Linked DNA regions of Homo sapiens: regions 1 and 2 are each linked to region 3. The links come from fine-mapping of genetic effects on gene expression. A gene starts in region 3. Each other region holds a variant in brackets. All regions are shown on one strand. Distances are from middle to middle. Region 1 has its middle 31 kb from the start of CLEC18C. Region 2 overlaps DDX19A-DT (DDX19A divergent transcript). Region 3 holds the start of AARS1 (alanyl-tRNA synthetase 1).

Region 1 (2,756 bases), 85 kb before region 3:
AAAGACTAAAAAAAAACCCTACAATTAAAAACCTCAGGTCCCTCAGGCAATCATACCAGATATTGAAACAAAGCAATAACATAAGGACTGCAGTATTTATTTTATTTTTATATTATTTATTTATTCTTTGTTAGTTTGTTTTTGGAGTGTGGGTTTTGTTTTGTTTTTTGATTTTTTTCTTTTGTTCCACCCACAGATTTCTTCTTATTGCCCAGGCTTGAGTGCAATGACCTGTTCTCAGCTTACTCAACCTCTGCCTCTTGGGTTTCAGTCATTTTTCTGCCTCGGCCTCCTGAGTAGCTAAGGGAGGAGTCTTGAGATTATCATCCACGGAGGGTGGAAGAGGAGAGGGTGGAAGGGGAATAAGAAGACACTCCAGTGAAGCACTTGCCTTGCGTGCAAAAATGTAAGGGGGCCTCTCCCTCTCCCTCTCCGTCTCCCTCTCCCTCTCCCTCTCCGTCTCCCTCTCCCTCTCCCTCTCCCTCTCCCTCTCCCTCTCCCTCTCCCTCTCCCTCTCCCTCTCCGTCTCCCTCTCCCTCTCCCTCTCCCTCTCCCTCTCCCTCTCACTCTCCCTCTCACTCTCCCCACGGTCTCCCTCTCATGCGGAGCCGAAGCTGGACTGTACTGCTGCCATCTCGGCTCACTGCAACCTCCGTGCCTGATTCTCCTGCCTCAGCCTGCCGAGTGCCTGCGATTGCAGGCACGCGCCGCCACACCTGACTGGTCTTGGTGGAGACGGGGTTTCGCTGTGTTGGCCGGGCCGGTCTCCAGCCCCTAACCGCGAGTGATCCGCCAGCCTTGGCCTCCCGAGGTGCCAGGATTGCAGACGGAGTCTCGTTCACTCAGTGCTCAATGGTGCCCAGACTGGAGTGCAGTGGCGTGATCGCGGCTCGCTACAACCTACACCTCCCAGCCGCCTGCCTTGGCCTCCCACGGTGCCGAGATTGCAGCCTCTGCCCGGCCGCCACCCCGTCTGGGAAGTGAGGAGCGTCTCTGCCTGGCCGCCCATCGTCTGGGATGTGAGGAGCCTCTCTGCCTGGCTGCCCAGTCTGGAAAGTGAGGAGCGTCTGCGCCCGGCAGCCATCCCATCTAGGAAGTGAGGAGCGCCTCTTCCCAGCCGCCATCACATCTAGGAAGTGAGGAGCGTCTCTGCCCGGCTGCCCATCGTCTGAGATGTGGGGAGCGCCTCTGCCCCGCCGCCCCATCTGGGATGTGAGGAGTGCCTCTGCCCGGCCGAGACCCCGTCTGGGAGGTGAGGAGCGTCTCTGCCCAGCCGCCCCGTCTGAGAAGTGAGGAGACCCTCTGCCTGGCAACCACCCCGTCTGAGAAGTGAGGAGGCCCTCCGCCCGGCAGCTGCCCCGTCTGAGAAGTGAGGAGCCTCTCCGCCCGGCAGCCACCCCATCTGGGAAGTGAGGAGCGTCTCTGCCCGGCAGCCACCCCGTCCGGGAGGGAGGTGGGGGTGGTCAGCCCCTGCCTGGCCAGCTGCCCCATCCGGGAGGGAGGTCGGGGGTCAGCCCCCCGCCCGGCCAGCCGCCCCGTCC[G/A]GGAGGTGAGGGGCACCTCTGCCCGGCCACCCCTACTGGGAAGTGAGGAGCCCCTCAGCCTGGCCAGCCGCCCCGTCCGGGAGGGAGGTGGGGGGGTCAGCCCTCCACCCGGCCAGCTGCCCCGTCTGGGAGGTGAGGGGCGCCTCTGCCCGGCTGCCCCTACTGGGAAGTGAGGAGCCCCTCTGCCCGGCCAGCCGCCCCGTCCGGGAGGGAGGTGGGGGGGTCAGCCCTCCGCCCGGCCAGCTGCCCCGTCTGGGAGGTGAGGGGCGCCTCTGCCCGGCTGCCCCTACTGGGAAGTGAGGAGCCCCTTTGCCCGGCCAGCTGCCCAGTCTGGGAGGGAGGTGGGGGGGTCAGCCCCCTGCCCGGCCAGCTGCCCCGTCTGGGAGGTGAGGGGTGCCTCTGCCCGGCCGCCCCTATTGGGAAGTGAGGAGCCCCTCTGCCCGGCCAGCCGCCCCGTCCAGGAGGGAGGTGGGGGGGGTCAGCCCCCCCCGCCCGGCCAGCCGCCCCGTCCGGGAGGTGAGGGGTGCCTCTGCCCGGCCGCCCCTACTGGGAAGTGAGGAGCCCCCCTGCCTGGCCACCACCCCGTCTGGGAGGTGTGCCCAACAGCTCATTGAGAACGGGCCAGGATGACAATGGCGGCTTTGTGGAATAGAAAGGCGGGAAAGGTGGGGAAAAGATTGAGAAATCGGATGGTTGCCGTGTCTGTGTAGAAAGAAGTAGACATGGGAGACTTTTCATTTTGTTCTGCACTAAGAAAAATTCTTCTGCCTTGGGATCCTGTTGATCTGTGACCTTACCCCCAACCCTGTGCTCTCTGAAACATGTGCTGTGTCCACTCAGGGTTAAATGGATTAAGGGCGGTGCAAGATGTGCTTTGTTAAACAGATGCTTGAAGGCAGCATGCTCGTTAAGAGTCATCACCAATCCCTAATCTCAAGTAATCAGGGACACAAACACTGCGGAAGGCCGCAGGGTCCTCTGCCTAGGAAAACCAGAGACCTTTGTTCACTTGTTTATCTGCTGACCTTCCCTCCACTATTGTCCCATGACCCTGCCAAATCCCCCTCTGTGAGAAACACCCAAGAATTATCAATAAAAAGAAAATTAAAAAAAAAAAAAAAAAAAAAACAGGCTACCTACAATTTGTGTTGAAGATATGAATGAATGAAGTTTCCACACCCTTATGTGGAGTTCTGATAAGTAAGCAACAATAAG
Region 2 (2,756 bases), 49 kb after region 3:
TGAGACTCCGTCTCAAAAAAAAAAAAAGAAAAAAGAAATGATAAACTGCTCTAGAACAGAGAAACTTGGGAAAAGGAATGTTTGGCCCAATGGAAAATTCTGGATATATTCATTATCTATAAATAATGCATTTTATTATTTTTCTTGAGTGTCATTCATTGGCTGTATGCATAAGAACTAATTGTTGATATATTCTTTTAATTGAAGATTAACCTGAATTGAGGATTAACATGAAGATTAATTAATAATAATTCAGGTTAATTGAACTTTAATTATGAAGTTTTCATATTACCAAGAAATCATTAATGAGTATAAGAAGGAAAGAGCTGGGTGCAGAGTGTCACGCCTATAATCCCAGCTACTTGGGAGGCTGAGGCAGGAGGATCACTGGAAGCCAGGAGTTCCAGATCATTCTGGGCAAACAGCGATATCTTGTTTCTTAAAAAGTTTAAAAAAGAAAATTAAGCCAGGCACAGTGGCTCACTCCTGTAATCCCAGCACTTTGAGAGGCTAGGGCAGATGGACTGCTCGAGGCCAAGGGTTTGAGAACAGCCTGGGCAACATAGTGAGACCCCATCTATAAAAAATAAAAAATTATAAAAAAATTAGCCAAGTATGCTGACGCATGCCTATAGTCCCAGCTACCCAGGAGACTGAGGTGGGAGGATCGCCTGAGCCTGGGGGGTTGAGGCTGCAGTGAGACATGATCCATGCCACTGCACTCCAACCTGGGCAACAGAGCAAGACCCCATCTCCTGAAAAAGAAGGTAGGAGAAACAGCAGCATGTTTTTGATTGCTGGTATTTGGGTATTTTTGTTTTAACAAGACTAATGTTGTAAAGTTTAACATTCTGTGCATTGGGATTGCCCATGGCTGAGCTCTACAGTCATTCTGAACCGGCGTGGTGGAGGTGCTCATGGTCATACTGGTTGAAGTTTTCTTGAAATATCTCAAGTTTGGTGTCAAGCACTTTATATTTTTCTTGTTGTTGAGATGGAGTCTTGCTCTGTTGCCCAGGCTGTAGTGCAGTGGCGCCATCTCAGCTCTCTGCAACCTCTGCCTCCCAGGCTCAAGCAATTCTTGTGCCTCAGCCTCCTGAGTTACTGGACCACAGGTGCCACCATGCC[C/T]GGGTAATTTTTGTATTTTTAGTAGAGATGGGGTTTCACCATGTTGGCCAAGGTCTTGAACTTCTGACCTCAGGTGATCCGCCTGCCGTGTATAGGCGTGAGCCACCATACACGGCTAATTTTTGTATTTTTAGTAGGGACGGGGTTTCACCATGTTGGCCAGACCGGTCTCGAACTCCTGGCCTCAAGCGAGCAACTCACCTCGGCCTCCCAAAGTGCTGGGATTACAAGTGTGAGCCACCATGCCTGGCCAGGTTTGTTAATTTCTATAGCAAGTAGGATTATGCCAGAGGAACAAATTAAATATTTTATTCATTTGATTTTTTTTTAACTTTCCCTACCTTCGAAAAACTCTGACTTTATATTTAACATCAATGGAAGGGACAACTTCAGAAAAAGGTGCAGTACCTCTAGTCTCATGGACCGTTCTGCTTAACTCCCCCACACTTCACTGACTATTTCAAGACTTTCACTCACCTCATAATTCCAACCCTATCATCCCCCTCAGGTGTCAGCAAATAAGCTCCTTACTCTAAGAAAATGGCTAACATACAGAAACTCCCTCAACCTTCTGCCACCAGAACTTCCTCCATGAGCACCGGTCCTTCCCTCTCCCTCCTGTTCCAATGAGACATGTATCCCTGTTATCTAAATTTCTCAGCTGAGTGAAATTACTCACACCTAATCTCAGCAACCTCGGGAGGCCAAGGCAGGAGGATCCCTTGAGCCCAGGAGTCTGACACCAGCCTGGGCGACACAGGGAGACCTCATCTTTACAAAAAAAAATTAAAAATTAGCCAGGCATGGTGGCTCATGCCTGTAGTCCCAGCTACTTTGGAGGCTGAGGCAGGAGGATCACTTGATCCCAGGAGTTTGAGGCTGCAGTAAGCCATGACTGCACCATTGCACTCCAGCTTGGGTAACAAAATGAGACCCTGCCTTAAAAAAAAAAAAAAAATATATATATATATATATATATATATATATATATGTAAATATGTACATTTTTCTGCCAATCCACCAACTTCCCTCTCCTGGCTTTTAAGAACTTGCTCTGTCAACTATCCCCTTATATTTGCTACCTCTCCCACCCCATCAGCTCTTTCTCATTGATATTTTAACATGTTCATACTTGACCGCTCTTTACAATTCAACCCTCTATTCCTCATCTTTCAGCCTGTCTCCTAATGGCAGAAAGTCTTGTAAGGTTGCTTGTATGCAGAGTCTCATTCCTCATCCCTCTGCAGTCTTGACTTTTGCTCCATCACTCCCCTGAAATAGCCTTCATGAAAGACACTGATGACTTACAGGTCCGAAATCTGAAAACCACTTTTTTTTTAGATGGGGGGGGTCTCACTTTGTTGCCCAGGCTGGAGTGCAGTGGCATAGTCACAGCTTACTGCAGCCTTGAACTCCAAGCTCAAGTGATCCTCCTGCCTCAGCCTCCCTAGTAGCTGTGGCTACAGATGCATGCAACCACACTCAGCTTAAAAGCTACATTTTAATCCCTGTTATATTTGCCTTCTCAGCAGCATTTAACTCTATCAACAGTCTCTTTCTCTGGCCACTCTTCTGGGGAGGAAAGTGACGCACACTTTGCTTCCTGGTCTTCTCTCTACCACTTCAGT
Region 3 (2,756 bases):
TGCCCGCCTCGGCCTCCCAAAGTGCTGGGATTACAGGGGTGAGCTACCGCGCCCGGCCAAGACACTTATTTAAGACAGCCTTCCCCTTCTTCTTTTTTTTTTTTTTTTTTTTTTGAGACGGAGTCTCGCTCTGTTGCGCAGGCTGGAGTGCAGTGGCGCGATCTCAGCTCACTGCAAGCTCCGCCTCCCGGGTTCACGCCATTCTCCTGCCTCAGCCTCCCGAGTAGCTGGGACTACTGGGACTACGGGCGCCAGTCACCACGCCCGGCTATTTTTGTATATTTGGTAGAGATGGGGTTTCACCGTGTTAGCCAGGATGGTCTCAATCTCCTGACCTCGTGATCTGCCCACCTCGGCCTCCCCAAGTGCTGGGATTACAGGCGTGAGCCACCGCGCCCGGCCGCCTTCCCCTTCTTGATAAGGCTCCCCCTCTTTTACTGTCTCACAGCCTCAAGTGTTTCCCTTCATAATTTCCATACGCGCTTCATGGATTGTTTAATGTGCGCCTCCCCCATCAGGCTGTCAGTTCCATCCCAGCAGCAACGACTGTTCTGGGCTCTTTTTTTTTTTTTTTTTTTGAAACGGAGTCTCCCTCTGTCACCCAGGCTGGAGTGCAATGGTGTGATCTCAGCTCACTGCAACCTCCGCCTGCCGGGTTCAAGCGATTCTCATGCCTCAGCCTCCGGAGTGGCTGAGAGTACAGGCGCGCGCCGCCACGCTCGGCTAATTTTTGTATTTTTAGTAAAGACGGGGTTTCACCATGTTGGCCAGGCTAGTCTCGAACCCCTGACCTCAGGTGATCCGCCCGCCTCGACCTCCCAAAGCGCTGGGATTACAGGCGTGAGCCTCCGCGCCTGGCCCTGGGCTATTACAGCACATCCTCAGCATCTAGTACAGTGGCTGCTAAATACGTATTTCGTGATCAGGTATACTAATCCTTTAACACCAAGTTCGGAATTAACTCACATGCTTCAAAGCACACCGAGAAATACAAACTGTTTTACAGAACAGCTTAAGATGACGGTCTCGGTGCGCCTGGACCGGCATCAGCTGTTTAGTTAATTTTAAGAAATCAAGGAATGGCTGGCTTACAGCAGGATTGCACCCAGCTGGCCCATCCTTCCTCCCGTGCCCCCACCCGCCCCTAGGGGATTAAAACCAAGGGAGCTAAAACCCCAGGTTGGCAACCGTGAGGTATTGGTGCTCAGCAAATCCACCCGAGGCCGCGACACTCGCAGCGCTCCCGGGGGCGAACGCAAGGCCACACTGTCCAGCTCCCGCTCCAGCCCAGACTGGGCTTCTCCAGGCCACGCGGGGCCTGATCCTGGGGCCCACTGCGGCTGCGGAGCTTTCCCCCCAGTCTGCGGGCCCAGCCGCTCTCCTAGCACCGCAGAGCTCTCCGAGGGCGGCCTACCTCTCCTAGGGTCGCCGTCCCCAGCTCCTCCCTCAGAGTCCCCCGCCAAGGGCCCGCTGCACCTATTCCCGCAGACGCGCAGCTGTACCGGCCTCAGACCACGACCTACCACAACCCGCCACGCTCCGTCCAATCAGAGCGCGCCGACGGAAAGTGCCCCGCCGCGCCTTACCTCATGAGATATTATTGGTCAACCAACATGCCAGTCAAACTGAGGACGAATCCGTTCATTAGTGGATTCCTGGGAAGGCGGCTCTAACTTGGCTGATGCAACTGCGAGAAAAGGTGGGATGGGGTGCGTCACATGATCGAGTTAGACCCCCCCCCGCCCCCCCCGCCCCCCCCCGCCCCCGGCTCCCGGAGGTCGACATTTTGGTTTCCATAGGCAAAGTCCTAACACCACAATTGACATAGTTAAAAAGGGGAGACGGTAACGTGTTTGGTAGAGGTTACATATCTTGCTATAGTTGTTTATTTTAGTTGCTGAGTGATACACAGCCCTCAAAGAGTCTGACATTGTGCCCATGGTTACACTTGTCCGGGGGAGACCTTGAATTTGGTGTGGAAGAAATAACATCAGTAGTTCAGGTACGATTGGATCAGCATCTGGTCCTCGATTTGCCTTTGGAAAAAAAAAAGTTAATATTTATAGGCCTGGGGGAGGAGGGTGAATATATATATATACATATACATATATACATGCCAGGTGCGGTGGCTCACGCCTATAATTGCAACACTTTGGGAGGCCAAGGTGGGAAGATCACCTGAACCCAGGAGTTGGAGACCAGCCTGGTCAACATAACTAGACCCTGTCTCTACGAAAAATTTTTTAAAAGGCCGGGCGCGGTGGCCCACACCTGTAATCCTAGCACTTTGGGAGGCTGAGGCCAACGGATGACGAGGTCAGGAGACCGAGAGCATCCTGGCCAACATGGTGAAACCCCGTCTCTACTAAAAACACAAAATTAGCCGGGCGCGCATCTGTAGTCCCAGCCACTCGGGAGGCTGAGGCAAGGGAATCCCTTGACCTCGGGAGGCGGAAGTTGCGGTGAGCCGAGATGGCGCCACTGCACTCCAGCCTGGCTACGGAGCAAGACTCCGTCTCAAAAAAAAAAATAAAAAATAAAAATTAGCCAGGCATAGTGGCGCATGCTTGTAGTCCCAGCTACTTGGGAGGTTGAAGTGGGAGGATCACTTGAGCCTAGGAAGTTGAGGCTGCAGTGAGCCCTGATCGTGACACTGCATTCCTTGGGCGACAGAGCGAGGCCCTGTCTGAAAAATATGTATGTATTTATACGTGAGGCATTGCATCAAACATTTCACATGCTTATTTCATTTGATT

What was found. PIP is the estimated chance that this variant, and not a neighbour inherited with it, causes the effect.
Region 1: its variant is fine-mapped to the expression of AARS1 in cerebellum (GTEx, PIP 0.98).
Region 2: its variant is fine-mapped to the expression of AARS1 in whole blood (INTERVAL, PIP 0.98).

Annotation. Positions count from the first base shown.
Region 1 is chr16:70,203,316-70,206,071 of GRCh38, forward strand. No RefSeq gene overlaps it. Among named protein-coding and RNA genes, the nearest start is that of CLEC18C, 31 kb to the left of the region's middle. RefSeq lists a silencer at 897-1,062. The variant G/A (reference allele first, on the strand shown) is at 1,542.
Region 2 is chr16:70,337,308-70,340,063 of GRCh38, forward strand. All of the region lies in intron 2 of DDX19A-DT (DDX19A divergent transcript), which reads right to left. Among named protein-coding and RNA genes, the nearest start is that of DDX19A-DT, 8.1 kb to the right of the region's middle. The variant C/T (reference allele first, on the strand shown) is at 1,129.
Region 3 is chr16:70,288,007-70,290,762 of GRCh38, forward strand. AARS1 (alanyl-tRNA synthetase 1) reads right to left here and starts at 1,500. Exons shown (of 21, transcript NM_001605.3): 1 at 1,415-1,500. It also overlaps a transcript of DDX19B not described here. RefSeq lists a silencer at 716-845.